2 separate regions of the Homo sapiens genome follow, and region 1 is linked to region 2. The links come from fine-mapping of genetic effects on gene expression. Tissue or cell type: whole blood. Region 2 holds a variant in brackets; the other region holds the start of a gene. All regions are shown on one strand. Distances are from middle to middle.

Region 1 (8,327 bases), 29 kb after region 2:
AAAAGGCTTGGAACCTCCTTTCTTTTTTTTAACTACCTAGTGTCATTTCTCACCTTGGGCCTTCTGAACCTCCACACAGGGCATCTCTGGGCTCTGTCCTCAGCTGTACCAAGCACTAATTTCACTGGTGCACTGGTAGCTCCTTCAAAGCAGCTAATGCTCCAACGAAAGAAACATAAAAGCTCCAAGACATCGGTCCTCCCCAACAGCTCACAAAGGACAGGACTGATCCTCCACTTGGCAAATGGACCATGGAGTGGAGTGAGGGGCCTTCCTTGAGTGAGCGCCTCCCTCCTCCCCAGTTCTGTGCTCCGGCCTTGGGTCAGGCTGACCTGCACCGGCCAACTGCAAAGGTTTGGGGAGCTCGGAAACTCATTAACAGGCTCCGATAATGAGACCGTCGGAAAAGCCCAAGAGCTTGCCTGTCTAGGTAGACCAGAAACCAAACTTACACCTGACAAGTGGAGTGATCAGAGAGCTGAAACCCAACAGGCGACATCAGCTAGGGCAGGCGAAAGCATTAATAATTGATTCCATGGGTCATTCTGGGGTTTTCATTTTAATAACTTGGCAAGAGAATTTTTATAAGTTGTGCTCCAAAAGAAATCAAGGCATTTTTCAATGAACCACCACCTCAAGTTGATGAAACCCCTCCCTTCTGACCTCCCTTCAGACACAGGTAGGACAGAATGGTGCTCAGCTATTCTCGGGATGGGGCAGGGTTCCTGGAGAGGAAGAGGAGGAGGAGGCAGAGGAGTCAGGGAAGAAGGGGAAGGAGGAGGAGGGGAAGGGAAGACGAGGAGGGGAAGAGCCCCAGCCAGTGCTCACCATTGTCGTTGTCTCTATGCAAGTGCTGGATCATGAAGGGGATGGGATCTTCGGGCTGGTGGATCAGGAGTTGCTCCAGCATGTTCTGTGGGTGCAGGGCAGACACCCAGGTGGTTAATACCTGCAAGGGCACCTGGTCACCACAGATACCAGCTATGGGGCCTGCTCTCTCCACTGCACCCCACCAAACATGCCTTCAACCTGGGACCCAGCCACCGCCCCAGCTGGCATCTGCTTGGGTCCCCATGAGCAGAGGCATGAGGGGGGCCACGTGGTGCTGCTGCGGAGGCACCTATGGGGAGGCAGAAGTGGAGGAGTCTCGCCCCTGATTCAGAGCAGGCAGTCCAGGGCTCTCTCCCCTGGGGCCCTTTGAGCTTCCCAGACCAGCCTTCTCCAAGTTCTCAAGCATCACCATTCCCCTCAGAGCCTTAGCAGATGCTGTTCCCTCAGCTTGGAAGCTTCTGCCTTGTCCTCATCCTGGCTAACTTCTGCTCAGTCTCAGATCTCAATGGGAACATACCTTCCTGAGTATGTGCACTACGTAAATATGTCAGATGCTCCTGCACCTGCCTGCGGGCATCGCCCTGTTCCACGCCTCACCCTGTCCCTACTCACCAGGCCACCATCCCCCCGGCAGGCCATGGGTTCTGTGGGCCTCCTTGTCTGCCTAGAGCCCTTGGCACCCCAATACCTGGCAGTCATAGCAGATGCCCAGCGCAGATGTTTGCTGGGGAACATGACCGTCACCACTAACTGTGTCTCTCCAGAATGGAACAGAATGTTACCAGCCAGATTTCTAAATAGTCCTGGGATATTCTGGCCATTTCATCCAATCAGGCAAGCATATCAAGAGAAAGCAGCTTCTGGGGTTGCAGAACCCTAGGCAGAGAAATGAGGAGGAGCTCATAGCAGCTGTGCTGCTGCAATAAGGGGTATCCTTGAGCCCCAGGGACAAGGAGGGAGGGGCTGTAGCCCTCTTGGAGTGAAGGGAGTGTGGGGCAGGGAAAGAGCACCGAGCCATGAGAAGTCTTGGTTCCAGCCCCACTGTATCTCATCAGCAAGTCCCTTCCCTTCTCTGGGCCTCAGCTTCTCTGCCTGTTCAGTAGCACAGCTGGAGTGAATTCATGTTTGTATGTCACTGGTGCGATGATGGAATGAGATGATTTTAGATGGTTCACACATAAATATTTTACATTTCATGTTTAAATCATTGTGTATTTAACGTGTATTAGAAATATAAGTACATCAAATCAATAATTTCAAGGATATCACTTAGGATGAGGCAAAAGCGGCTATTTAATTTTTTAAAAGGTGAGTTGATTTAAACAAGTGATTAGTTTAAATGGAGGTGCAGTAGCGGTTATGCAAATCTGTACATGTGATACAACTGCACAGAACTGTATGCACAACAAAAACATCAATGCAGGTAAAAATGGAGGAAATCCAAACAAGGCCTACAGTTCAGGTAATCCTATTGTACCAATGCCAGTTTCCTGGTTTTGACAATGTGCTACAGTTATGTTAGATGTTATCACGGGGGCAATGTGGGAGGGGAGACCAGAAATCCATACTATTTTTTAACTTCCTGTGAATCTAACATTATTTTAAAATCAAAAGTATAAAAAATGGAAATGGTCAAAAACATGGAGGGAATCCACAGATGACTAAGGACTGGAAATACTGGACTGAAAGCTTTCTTGTTGGGAGGCCGAGGCAGAAGGACTGTTTGAGCCCAGGAGTTCAAGACCAGTCCGGGCAACATAGCAAGACCTCGTCTGTACTAAAATTAAAAAAAAAACATTAGCCAGGTATGGTGGCCTGCACCTGTAGTCTCGGCTACTCTGGAGGGACTAAGGCAGAAGGATTGCTTGAGCCCAGGAGTTCAAGGCTGCAGTAAGCCATGATTGTATCACTGCACTCCAGCCTGGGCAGCAGTGCAAGACCCTGTTTCAAAATCAATAAAAGCTTTCCTGGGCAATTCCTCCAACAATCAATGTGGAAAACACACCAGGTTCTCTAGAGCAGACAACAGGGCTCCAGATGATCCCCCATCCTGCCCTGACCTGCTGACTTCTAACCCAGCTAGCTATTTGATTTGTGATTGGCCACTCAAGCAGTTTTAGGAATCTCTTGCTCTCCCTCTATCAGTTAACACTTTCCGAGGGAAATGTGTTTGATGGAGGTGCAGACACGGGTTTCTTCGTCTGGGCTCAGCTGTCTAGTGTGCAGGGCAGAACCTCAAATGACCACAGACACCACTATGCCCTCCATGCCATGCCCCTGGGGATGGGGTGTACCCTGGGAAGCAGACAAATGATCTGAAAACTGAGCTCCAGCTTCCCCTTGCCTCTCAGAACCTTTGAGTGGCTGAGAGTTCTTCCCCTCCAGCTCCTGAAAGCCTTGACCTCCACCACGTGCAAAAGGGAAAACTGGGGCCCTGGCGGGGACGGGGCCTCGCCCAAAGTCACACGGTGAGCTGGGGGCCCAGTCAGGCCTGGAGCCAGAATGAGAGCTTCGGAGCTGCCGGGGACGTCTGGCCCTGAGGAGGAGGGACCAAGGTGGGAGATGCTGCTGTCCCAGAGGCGGCCCTCTCTGAGGATGGAGATGCCAGCTTGAACTCGGACAATGCCCACCTCAGAAACCTGGGCCGAGAGGCTCCCCACAAATTCGACAGATGGTAATTGTCAGCGCCGGGAGAGCCCCTGGGAGACCACCTCTTGCAACCTGGCATTTCACAGGTGGGGAAACCGAGAAAAGGAAAGGACTGGTTCCAGACCATAAGGCCCGCTGGCGGCACAGCCAGGACCAAATCCCGGCTCGAGTGGCCCCCTTCCTCCCCCTGGGTCCGCCTGAGGCAAACCCGGGCAGGACCAGGAGCGTCCCCAGCTCGAGGGCCCCCTCGGGGTCACGGCGACACACGAATCGTACATCCCGAGTTGGGCTGCTTCGTGGGCGCGCGACTCGGCCCCAGCTGCGGGTCCCGGCCGCGCACCCGACGTCGCAGTGGAGGCTCCCGAGCCGCCGCCAGCGTCGCGACGGGCAGGGGTGTCCGGTCACCTGCATCAACTCGAAGATGTGGTTCTCCTCCCCGTACTGGGGCATCTCGGGGGGGATACGGTGCGGGGCGATAGTGGCGTCCATGTAGCCGTCTCGGCTCGCCGCTCCCTAGTAACCGCGTCGCTAGGGCCGCCGCGCCGACTGCGTCATCAGCACGCGCCGCGGCCCCGCCCTGCAGGCTCCGCGCCGGGCCCAGATACCCGATCCTCGGTCGCGCGGGTCGCCCCCGCCCCGACCTCCCCGGCTGACGCGCTCTGCGGCTCGGGCAAGTTCTTTCCCCAACCCCGGCCTCGCTTTTCCCATTTGCGCATCTTAGCGGGGGACACCCTCAGGTGGCTTCCAGCTGGGCCTCCTCGTATCTGAGACCCCCGACGAAACCCAGAAGGGGCAAGTCGGCCCTCCGAGGGGACGGGAGGCAGAACCTGCTTCTGGTTCTGTCAGTGCTCCCCGGCCCGGCTCCCTGTGCCTCAGTTTACCCATCTTTAAAACAGACGCGGGAATAAATGTGGGGGAGGGTGTTTGAAGGGGGAGGGGCGTCCATGAGATGGGCCGGAGGTTCGAGGATCGGGTGGAAATCCTCAGCCCAACTCCTAGAGTCGAGCCCCGGTAGACCCCTCCCAGCTCCCCGGCTCTGGCCAAGCCGCCAAGTGACCCGATTGCTATGGCACCGGCGGTAACAATCACGCCCGCGGCCCCGCCCCTTCTCGCCCGACGTCCCCACCCACCCTCGCCTCCCAAGTCCTGGAACGGGCCTCCCCACCCTCCGGGGCACCGACACTCACGGAGTCACTCCAACTTCTCTGGGTGCTCCGTGGAGCGAAGAGCGCTCTAGGACAAGCAAGGGTAAACAGGGATGAGTGTGGGTGGGCCCACTCGGACCCCACCCCGGCCTCTGGGTCAGAAACTGGAAGCTGGGGTGGAGGATGGAAAGATGGAGGGGTCCGGAGGATGGAGGGGCCTGCACAGCTGTCTCGGGGTGGGGGCGAGGGGAAGGTTCGCGCTGGAGACGGAGCTTTTTAAGTCGTATGAATTCCCAGTGGTACGGGGCAGCTTGATATTTTATTAGTCGCAACACTGAATTGGGATCTCTAGCTCTTGTCTGTTGCCGTTAATCGTAGGAGCTGTAAGAGTTTGTTGAACTCTTTGTGCTCTCGGCAAAATTCTGTTGTCTCTGTACCTTATGGAGAGGGAAAATGGCACAGTCAATGCAGACAGCCCCAGCTTCAAGTTCTGGCTCCGCTTCTTACTGTGTGAGCTTGGCAAACTCTCTGCTTGCTCCGTGCCTCACTTTCCTGCCCTGTGAAGAGGGAACTGCTGAAGGATTTCAGGAGCTAATGTATTGGAGAGTAATTGGCATGCAGTAAGCACACAATATATGGGGCTACTATTAGTAGTAGTATCTCATTTAATCGTTCCAACAATCCTGTGAAATAGGCACCTTCATTCCCATTTTACAGATGAGAAGTTGGAGGATTAGAACAATGAGGAGTGGTTGGCTGGGTAACTTTGGGTGAGTCACTTCCCCTTTCTGGGCTTCTTTTCTCATCAGTTGTTGATCATACAGCCTTAGAACCAGAAGGCCTCTTGAAGAAGAGGCTAATCCAAACTCTCTCATTTGACAGATGGATAAACTGAGGCCCAGAAAAGGGGGAAATCTTGGCTAGGGCCACTGGTTAGATTGGGCAGAGCCAGGGCATGAACTCTGCATCCAGGCTCCAGCTAAAGCCCTTTTCTACCAGCCATCAGCCCAGAGACATGCCCTCCCAACGTAAAAGCCAGCACTGTTGCCTCTTCCCCTCCAAACCGCTTCCTCAAAGTGTGTACACCTTGGTAGGCTTGTCAAACCCAACTGTAAAGATAGCTGGGGAAGAAAAGGAAGCTGCCTCCCCCTGAGCAAAGAACACAACAGCCATGCCTGCCATTTGCACTGGAGAGGTTTGTTTTGCTTCCTGGACATTTCTGAAATGACTTGCCTTTCTCCTCATTTATTTTAAGCCCTAGGCGCTTTTCCTACCATGATTCAATCTTCTTTAGCAGCCTGGAAAAATACAAATCAATTAAAGCCTAAAACCTATGGGTAATCATTTTTTTCCTCCCTCCTCCCCCAGATCGAGAAGTGCCCGTCCCCTGTGCCCTTCATCCACACTAATTTGGCTGCAGTGGCTCTCGTTCAAGGGACGATCACTTCGGATAGCTTATTACAGCTCCTCTCATGACATTCCTGGCGTGCATGTCACAAGTTGCTAGGATCAAGAACAGAGTCAGTTCCTCTCAACCACTACCAACCACAGCTCCCACCATGATGAGGGAAAAGCCAGGCCGAAAGGGCACACGCCCTTTCTCCCTGGAACTCCACCTATGTGCTCTCTCTCACTTTTCTGGAGCTTCACCTTTGAGTCATTTGTAAGCCCTGGGCCAACATTAGGGCAAGGCAAGTGATGCACCCTCAGCACAAAACTTAAGGGAGTGCCGGCAATTCAATCATTGAGGTGGATGTTTTTCACGTTTTAATGCAATATATTTTAAAAATCAAAAATAATGCTGCCTAAAATCCATTTAGAATAACATGTCAAAAATTTAAGTAAAGGTAGGCTCAGTGTTACTGATTTCTCCTTTTGCCTCAGGCCTCAGTATGGCAAGGTGCAGCTATCTTTTTTTTTTTTTTTTTTGAGATGGAGTCTTGCTCTGTCGCCCAGGCTGGAGTGCAGTGGCGCCATCTCGGCTCACTGCAAGCTCCGCCTCCCAGGTTCACGCCATTCTCCTGCCTCAGCCTCCCGAGTAGCTGGGACTACAGGCGCCCGCCACCGTGCCCGGCTAACTTTTTTTGTATTTTTATTACAGACAGGGTTTCACCGTGTTGGCCAGGATGGTCTCAATCTCCTGACTTCGTGATCCACCCACCTCGGCCTCCCAAAGTGCTGGGATTACAGGCGTGAGCTACCGCGCCCAGCCAGCAATCTTTTCTTTACAAATTCTGATGTTGCCAGCTCATGCTTCTAATCCCAGCACATTGGGAGGCTGAGGTGGGAGGATCGCTGGAGCCCAGGAGTTCGAGACCAGCCTGAGCAACATAGGGAGACCCCATCTCTACAAAAAAAAAGAAAAAAAAAAAAGAAAAAAAAGAAGAAAAAAAAAAAAAGAAAAAAGGTAGTCAGGCATGGTGGCACATACCTGAGGTCCCAGCTACTCAAGAGGCTGAGGCGGGAGGATCACTTGAGCCCAGGAGGTCAAGATTGCAGTGAGTCGTGATCACAGCACCACACTCCAGCCTGGGTGAAAGAGCAAGACCCATTCTTTAAAAAACGTTTTTGGGGCTGGGTACAGTGGCTCATGCCTATCATCCCAGCACTTTCGGAGGCTGAGAAAGGGAGATCACTTGAGGCCAGGAGTTCAAGACCAGCCTAGCTGACGTGGTGAAATTCCATCTCTACTAAAAATACAAAAAATAGCCAGGTGTAGTGGCACCCACCTGTAATCCCAGCTACTCAAGATGCTTTTTTTTTTTTTTGAGACAGGGTCTCACTGTGTCACCCAGGTTGGAGTGCAGTACTGCGATCATGGCTCACTGCAGCCTTGACCTCCTGGGTTCAAGCGATCCTCCTGCCTCAGCCTCCCAAAGTGCTGGGATTATAGGCATGAGCCACTGTGCCTGGCCTATTTTCATCTTGATTGCCGAGTTTTTTGGCGCCTCCTTAAGTTTTGCATGGGGGCAAGTGTCTCCCTCACCTCACCCTAGTTGGTCCTGGGTGAGCCGGACACCACGGGAGGCACAACAGGAAACCACTGTGCGTGAGTCAGCATGTCTGCTCCATGTGGCAGGGACCAGCCAAGGATATGGCAGGTGTCAATAAACCATGGACCCCCCATCTCATTCCCCACCTTCAGCTCTCCTTTCCATAGGAGGTTGAGCTGGAAAGAGGCCCCTGCCCTGCCTGCCCTGGCCCAGGCCCACCCCCAGGGCAGCTGCGACTGTCCCTGTGTCTGTTGACAGTCACAGTGCTGTGGCTCTGCTGCAGAAGCATACTCTCTTGTCTTTCCAGGAGACTCACTCAGTGGCTCTTAAGGTGGCTCCTCTAAGGCAGCCTTGCTGGCTTTTGGCTCCAGGGATAGAGGCTCCATGGCTGGGCTCCATCTTGCTAAAGGGCCTCTTCCCCAGCCTCCTCCAAGTGCTCTGATGTACCACCCCCATCATCTCGCGGAGGCCATCTCCTGGTCTGTTCTTGTGTTTCCTTTCATTCCTCTGATGCCATCTCTTCTTGCATCAACTGGGATGCTCCCCCTACCCTGCCTCTTTTTTTTTTTTTTTTTTGAGTCAGGGTCTCCCTGTGTCCTAGGCTGGAGTGCAGTACTGCGATCATGGCTCACTGGAGCCTTGACCTCCTGGGTTCAAACTGGACCCCCAGCTCCAGCCCTGCTCTGGACACAGCAGAAAGAAATATTTC
Region 2 (8,327 bases):
CACTCCCAATCAAGGGGAGTCACCCAGAATGTAATTACAGCCTCTTGCATAGTGCAAGGTGCACCTGCAATGTCATGTAGCAGATAACATGCCAGACCAGGCGCGTAGACTACAGCTACCACCATCATCAAAATAATCATAATAATAACACACATTATAAATACTCAGTCAATATATTATTTATAATACAATGTAATCACATATAGTGTAATGTAACTAATAACGATGTCAATTATAATTGAGATTTTAATTTCTAACAATAGACTTCATCATCATTTTTATGATGGTGACTTGGGATGCATGGTCCTGTACTCTGTCCACACTGCAGGTGCACTATGCAAAGAGGTTATGCAGACCAAGCTTTTAAATAAGCTCAGGAAGAATTCACAGAAGTTAAATGCATATTTGAAAGACTATTCTAGGCCGGGTGCAGTGGCTCATGCCTGTAATCCCAGCACTTTGGGAGGCCCAGGCGAGGGGATCACTTGGAAGTCAGGAGTTTGAGACCAGCCTGGCCCACATGGTCTCTACTAAAAATATAAAAATTAGCCGGGCATGGTGGCATGTGCCTGTAATCCCAGCTACTCAGGAGGCTGAGGCAGGAGAATCGCCTGAACCTAGGAGGCGGAGGTTGCAGTGAGCAGAGATCGCGCCACTGCACTCCAGCCTGGGCAAGAACGAAACTCCATCTCAAAAAAAAAAAAAAAAAATGACTATTCTAGATCACTGAGGGCATGTTTGGGATATCCAGCTGCAAACACAGAGAGAATCACCATATTTTCCCCAGAAACTATCACTCAGTGAGGTAGAAATTTTTTAAAAATCACGGAAACAAATCTGTCCAGGCAGCTGGATCCTGTGTGAAAACTGTGCAGCCTTGTTAGATTCTGGAGTGGGGAAAGAAGGGCAGTGCGGCTTCAAGGGCGTGTATATAGCCAGTGGGACACACAGACGATCACTGGCAGCCCACCCTGAGGCCCTGCATCTCTGGATTCTAGATTTCCACCTAGAATCCAGAATGCTTACCCACCAGAAACATTTTCATTGGAATGCTGTAACTTGTAAAAATTACTTACACGAAATAGTACTGTTTCAAATGTTTTGAGGTTGGAAAGGAGAGAGACTTTGAGGGTTGCTCAGTGGTATCCAGACACCCACCCTGGGCCTTCTGCAATGGATGTGTGGGGTGGATGGGGCAGAGGGGCCCACAGATGCCTTGGCCCCATGCCAAGCCTCTCTTCCAGCTATGAAGTTCAGATCTGCCTCTAACTGACGTGACTCCTTTGCTTATTTATCTGGTTTATTGTCTGTCTCTCCATGACTAGAACTTCTGTTCCTTGAGAGCAAGACGTTTAACTCTCTTGTTCACTGCTTTGGTCCCTGTGCTTAGCAAAGTGATTTGTTGCATGAGAGAATAGATGAATGAATGAATGAATGAATGAATGAATGAATGAATGAATGAATGAGTACTTTTAGGAAACACTGACTGGGGAGCCGGGTAGGCCAACAAACCATGACAAGGCTTTTGGTCACGACTCTAGTGGAGGAACATATCAGGTGGCATGGGGACACGTTGGGGGCCTGTGAATGGCACAAAACACGACAGGGAGTAGATAGGCTTTGCCCAGCCTTTGAGCTTCTGTCCTGGGCTGCATAGCACAGCCCTGGAGCCCCTGGGTCAGAGCGCTGGCCCTGTGCACCATGTGCCTGGTCTACCCTGGCCAGCCCTGCCGCTTCCCCCGGTGTGGCTCTGGGCGTGCCTCAGGCCCTGCAGCTACAACATGGGCACAATAATAGTAACACTGGCCATGTAGGGTCCCGTGAAGCTGGAGAAGCTGCTGGGCGTAGTGCCTGATGCCAGGCTCAGACGCATGCTCCATTCAGGTCTCTGGCTTCTCCCGGGCCGAGATAGAGAGCTGGAGCAGAGGCTCTGGGCCTGCCTGCTCTCCTGCCTGCCTGGATCCCAGAGACTTCTGCCTTCCAGTGGTCAGCAGGCCAGCTCCCGGCTTCTGCTGCACTAAGGCAGCTGGTTGAAGCAAACACTCTTGACCAGGAGAGCGGGCCGGGGGAAGAGCGGCCCAGACACAGCAGTTCCTGCTCAAGTTCCTGGGTCACAGGTGGTTTGGGGATCATAGCATCTTCAAAGGAAATCTGAAAAGGGAAAGGCAGGTCTTCTACCACCAGGCGTGGGGAAGTCCTGCTGCCTTTGCTGACTAAGACAGACCGTGGCGCCATCTCCACCGGGCCTTTCGTTTGGCAGGGGCAGTGATGGTGGCTCATGAGTATGCCACATTTTTTAGGTGCGTGTTATTCCTGAGGATATGAACTACATAGTTTCTCCCTTCCTGTGTGCTTAGAACGAATGCTCATCACACTGACAGTCCTGGTTCCAGGAACTCTTGGCATATTGAATTTGAAACACTGCCTGATGGGCAAGACCATATCCAGCTGTGCTTTCACAGACAGCCCCCACCCCTGCTGAGGGGGTCCAGTCCTGGGCAACTAAGGTACAATTAAGCCAAAGGAGTACCACCCCCCTATATTTGACCAAATTTGATGAGTAGCTATCATGATGAAAAAGAGAAAACAGCTTAGCTTTAAAGATCAAAGAGAGCCAGGCATGGTGGCTCATGCCTATAACCCCAGCACTTCGGGAGGCCAAGACATGTGGATCACTTAAGCACAGGAGTTTGAGACCAGCCTGGGCAACATGGTGAGACCTTGTCTCTACAAAAAATACAAAAATTAGCCGGGCATGGTGGTGCGCGCCTGTGATCCCAGCTACTCAGGAAGCTGAGCAGGAGGATCGTTTCAGCCCAGTTTAAGATCAGCCTGGGCAACATTGGGAGACCACGACTCTACAAACAATAAAAATGAAAAACAGATGGGCATGGTGGCATGTGCCTGTAGTCCCAGCTACTCAGGAAGCGGAGGTGGGAGGATTGCTTGAGCCCAGGAGGTTGGGGCTGCAGCGAGCCATGACCGTGCCATTGCACTCCGGCCTGGGCAACAGAGCAACACCCTGTTTCAAAAAAAAAAAAAAAAAAAAAAAAAAAAGATTGAAGAGAAGAAAGGAAGACTCCCTTGAATGCTTCCAGCCTGGTGATCTGCTATGCAAGAGTCTAATCCAACTTGGCAAATGCATAAGAAATAATGGATAATGGATTAAGGCACACAGCATTTTGTATGGGAAAATGCTGGCCCATTTCCAGTCACTCGGGCCATCTTTCCCTCCCCTTTAATGCTCTGCCAAAAGATTGTTTGGCACTTCCTAGGTAAAAGAGGTGGGAAACCTTAAAAATAGTGACCGACTGATGGGTCAGTTTTAGGAAAAGTTCCCGTGAGGTTGGTTTGACACTCTGAGTTAAGAGTGTGAAATTGGGGTAAAGGACTGGGTTTTCTGGTTCCTGCCTCACTTCTGGCTGCCATTCCCTCCAGCCTAAGACGGCCCCTCCACAGTCCACTCCAGTCCCCTTCACTAGAGGCTTCAGGAATCACTTGACTCTCCCGCCCTGGTTTTTCCATCACAACCCTTCTCACCATCTGCCTTGCCTTGGTCATGTTTGACTCTGCCTTCAACTGCAGATGGTGAGCCCAAGGCAGGCAAGACCATCTTGCTAGAAGTGGGGGGTGCTGAGGAGGAAGGTCTCGGGTGTGGGGAAGGGTCCTGGTAGTGAAAACCATGCAGGGCCTGCAGGGG[G/T]CACTCAACTGGAGATGCAGAATCAAGTCGCCGAGCTTGGAAGTCAGGTGACTGGGAGGGAACTTAGTTAAAATGAAAGTCTATGGGGAAGCTGGCCTTTCTTCTAACACTCCTGTTTGCTTTTTTTTTTTTTTTTTTTTGACACGGAGTCTCACTCTGTCGCCCAGGCTGGAGTGCAGTGGCGTGATCTCGGCTCACTGCAACCTCTGCCTCTTGGGTTCAAGCGATTCTCCTACCTCAGCCTCCTGAGTAGCTGGGACTACAGGCGCGTGCCACCACGCCCGGCTAATTTTTTGTATTTTTAGTAGAGACGAGGTTTCACCATGTTAGCCAGGATGGTCTCAATCTTTGGATCTCATGATCCGCCTGTCTCAGCCTCCCAAAGTGCTGGGATTACAGGTGTGAGCCACTACGCCCAGCCGGAAGTTTGCTTTTTATTGAGAGCTCAAGAGAAAGGGCAGAAATGTTTTCATGATCAATGTGAAAGTGTTACTTAGAACAGGGGTTGGCAAGCTACAGCCCGCGGGCCAAATCTGGCCTGCTGCCTGCTTCTAAGATAAAAGTCTTTCTAGAGCACAGCCGTGCCCTTTTGTGTCTGTGTTGTGTACGGCTGCCTTTGTATTACATCAGAGCTGAGTCGTTGTGACAGAAGCCATATAGCCTGCAAAGCCTCAACGAGTGTCTCTCCATCCTTTTCAGAAAACATGTGTCCACCCCCGATTTAGAATAGCCTCTGGGCTCTGGATATCTGCCCACACCTGGGCAGAAGACCATCCACTCACAGTGAACAATTTGAGACAATTCAGATGTAAACACACTGTTCAGAGCCAGTGTTGCAGCCCGGCCGGCAGGGTGTTTGTGATGGAGATCCCATGGCTGAGGGCCATGCAGAACAAGCTCGTGAGAACTGCTACTCCCTCGCCAGCATGCTGGAAAGATTCCTGCTTCAGGTTTGGGGCTTCCCAATCAATATATTTTTGAGACAGGGTCTTGCTCTGTCACTCAGGCTGGAGTGCCGTGGTGCGTGTCGGCTCACTGCAACCTCCTCCTCCAGGTTCAAGCGATTCTCCTGCCTCAGCCTCCCGAGTAGCTGCGATTACAGGTGCACGCCACCATGCCCAGCAAATTTTTTGTATGTTTAGTAGAGACAGGGTTTCACCATGTTGGCCAGGCTGGTCTTGAACTCCTGGACTTAAGTGATCTTCCTGCCTCAGCCTCCCAAAGTGCTGGGATTACAGGCATTAGCCACTGCATTCAACCCTAGTACATTTTTTTTTTTTTTTTTGAGACAGGGTCTCACTCTGTCACCCAGGCTGGAGTGCAGTGGCGTGATGTCGGCTCACTGCAACTTCCACCTCCTGGGTTCAAGCCATTCCCCTGCCTCAGCCTACCGAGTAGCTGGGATTACAGGCACCCACCACCATGCCCAGCTAATTTTTTTTTTTTTTTTTGAGACAGAGTCTTGCTCTGTAGCCCAGGCTGGAGTGCAATGGCATGTGTACGGCTGCCTTTGTATTACATCAGAGCTGAGTCGTTGCGATAGAAGCCTCCTGCCTCAGCCTCCCAAAGTGCTGGGATTACAGGCGTGAGCCACTGCATTCAACCCTAATACTTTTTTTTTTTTTTTTGAGACAGGGTCTCACTCTGTCACCCAGGCTGGAGTGCAGTGGCGTGATGTTGGCTCACTGCAACCTCTGCCTACTGGGTTCAAGTGATTGTCCCTGCCTCAGCCTCCCAAGTAGCTGGGATTACAGGCACCCACCACCATGCCCAGCTAATTTTTATATTTTTAGTAAAGACAGGGTTTTGCCATGTTGGCCAGGCTGGTCTCGAAATCCTGACCTCAGGTGATCCGCCCGCCTCGCCTTCCCAAAATACTGGGATTACAGGCGTGGGCCACCACGCCCGGCCAATTTTTTGTATTTTTAGTAGAGACGGGGTTTTGCCATGTTGGCCAGGCTAGTCTAGAACTCCTGGACTCAAGCAATCCTCCTGCCTTGGCCTCCCAAAGTGCTGGGATTACAGGTGTGAGCCACCATGCCCAGCCTGGCCCTAATACATTTTCAAGTGAGAGACAGATGGAGAAAGAGAGAGAATCTGTAGGTGCATTTAAAAAAAAAAAAAAAAAAGACACAAGTTCTGATTCTGGGAGACAGGAAATGTGCGCCACCCGCCTTGTCAACCCCACTGAAAGTAGCTGTAATACATTCATAAAACACACAGGGCAGCTATTCGAGGACTCAGAAAGTTACCCAGTAGTAGGCAAGTTGGGGGAAAAGACTAGAATCCAAAATACCACCAAACCAGTATCTCCTGGCCTGGCCTTAAGGCAACCTGAAGGCTGAAAGTGGGAAGCAGATGGGAGAAGAGCGAGCTAGGAGGGGAGATACCTCTGTGGGGTTTTTCTTTTCTCTGTTTTCTCACACTCCTGCCTCCAGGCAGTCCTGCGGTGACTGTGGTGGCACTGCTGTGTCAAAGGGGCCTGCAGGTGCCTGAAACACTGAAAGAGGGGACCCTTCTCCAGTCCCAAGAGAACAGGGCAAAGCCCTGTCAATCCTTCCTTTCTCTGTCCTCCCACCACTTGACCCTGGTCATGGGTGCAGTCCCAGGAAGTGAGTGGCAGAGCAGGATAAATAACCTCAGTTTTCTGGCCAAAATACCAAAAAGAGGAGCACCAGGGAACTAGGAGTTATCAGGAGATGACAGAGAGGGGAGCTCAGGGAAGTAACTAAACACAGTGTTTGATGAGATCAAAGGCTCACCCCCAAGCTGTGCACGTGTGGGCCTGACCCTAAACGGCATTTCAGAGACACTGAGACATGAACTGTGGCCAGCTCACTGCCAAGTCCCCAGGTGCCCCTGGGTGATGTGCACATAGCACAGAGCTGCATGGTCGGTCACTGCACGGCACTGCAAAGTTGCTGAACACAGGACTGACATGGAAACCACACTCTGAGAAGCCTGGCTGGAACATGCAACCTGAACCCAACTGAATCAGTCATCTGCTAAGACAAAAATAATGACATTTGCCATAGGATTTAAACAAGACCCAGAGCCTCATAACAATATTTAAAATGTCCAGGATACAAAATTACTTAGCGCAGGGAGAACCAGGAACATCTCTACTCACATGAGAGCAGATACAGATGTCACCACCACGTAACTCAGATACTGGAATTAGCGGATGAAAACTCGAAAGCGGCTATTACAAGAAACTTCCAACTGGTAAAAACACAGAAAGATACAGTCTCAGCAAAGACACAGAAGGCAGAAAGAACCGATGCGATAAAAAACTCACAGGACAAGCTCAATAGTGGAATAAAAAAACAAGGGAAGATTCAGTGACCCTGACAATAGTTCAATACAAATTATCACATGTGACTGATAGAGAGTAAAAACAATAGGGGCCAGGCATGGTGGCTCACGCCTGTAATCTCAGCACTTTGGGAGGCCAAGGCGGGAGGATTACTTGAAGTCAGGAATTCCAGTCCAGCCTGGCCAACATGGTGAAACCCTGACTCTATTAAAAATACAAAAATTGGGCCGGGCGCGGTGGCTCATGCTAGTAATCCCGGCACTTTGGAAGGTCGAGGCGGGTGGATCATGAGGTCAGGAGATTGAGACCATCCTGGCTAACACAGTGAAACCTCGTCTCTACTAAAAAATACAAAAAATTAGCCGGGTGTGGTGGCACGTGCCTGTAATCCCAGCTACTCGGGAGGATGAGGCAGGAGAATAGCTTGAACCTGGGAAGCGGAGGTTGCAGTGAGCTGAGATCGCACCACTGCACTCCAGCCTGGGTGACAGAGCAAGACTCCATCTCAAAAAAAAAAAAAAATTAGGCACGGTGGTGTATGCCTGTAACTCCAGCTAATGGGGAGGCTGAGGCATGTGAATTGCTTGAACTTGGGAGGCAGAGGTTGCAGTGAGCCGAGATCATGCCACTGCACTCTGGCCTGGGCAACAGAGTGAGATTAGGTCTCAAAAAAAAAAAAAAAAAAAAAAAAAAGAAAGAAAGAAAAAATGATAAGAAAAAAAAAGACTGGAGCCTCAGGGACCTGTGGGACAACAGCAAAAGGGTGAATGCTTTGTGTTATTGGAGTTGCAGAAGGAGAGGAGAGAGAGTAGGGTGCAGGAAGTTACGTGAAGAAATAAAGGCTAAAAACTTTGCAAGTTTGGAGGAAAATACAAACCTATAAATTCAGGAGCTCAGCAAACACCAAAAAGAATAAGCCCAAAGAAATTCATCCCAGACATGTCATAATTATACTAGTGAAACCTAAAAATAGGCCGGGCACGGTAGCTCACACCTGTAATCCCAGCACTTTGGGAGGCCAAGGCGGGTGGATCACCCGAGGTCAGGAGTTCAAGATCAGCCTGGCCAACAAGGGGGAAACCCTATCTCTACTAAAAATACAAAAATAAGCCAGGCATGGTGACGCATGCCTGTAATCCCAGCTACTCAGGAGGCTGAGGCAGGAGAATCGCTCAAACCTGGGAGGTGGAGGTTGCAGTGAGCCGAGATTATGCCGCTGCACTCCTACCTGGGCGACAGAATGAGACTCCGCCTCAAAAAAAAAAAAAAAGAAAAGAAAAGGAAAAAAGAAAACTAAAAACAAAGAAAAAA

What was found.
Region 1: AK8 starts here. The variant in region 2 is fine-mapped to the expression of AK8 in whole blood (TOPMed, PIP above 0.99).

Annotation. Positions count from the first base shown.
Region 1 is chr9:132,874,287-132,882,613 of GRCh38, forward strand. AK8 (adenylate kinase 8) reads right to left here and starts at 3,998. Exons shown (of 13, transcript NM_152572.3): 1 at 3,886-3,998; 2 at 829-913. The coding sequence starts at 3,969. It overlaps SPACA9 (sperm acrosome associated 9), which reads left to right and starts at 4,612. Exons shown (of 4, transcript NM_001316897.2): 1 at 4,612-4,728.
Region 2 is chr9:132,845,087-132,853,413 of GRCh38, forward strand. The region is part of intron 5 of AK8 (adenylate kinase 8); the gene reads right to left. Among named protein-coding and RNA genes, the nearest start is that of AK8, 29 kb to the right of the region's middle. The variant G/T (reference allele first, on the strand shown) is at 3,701.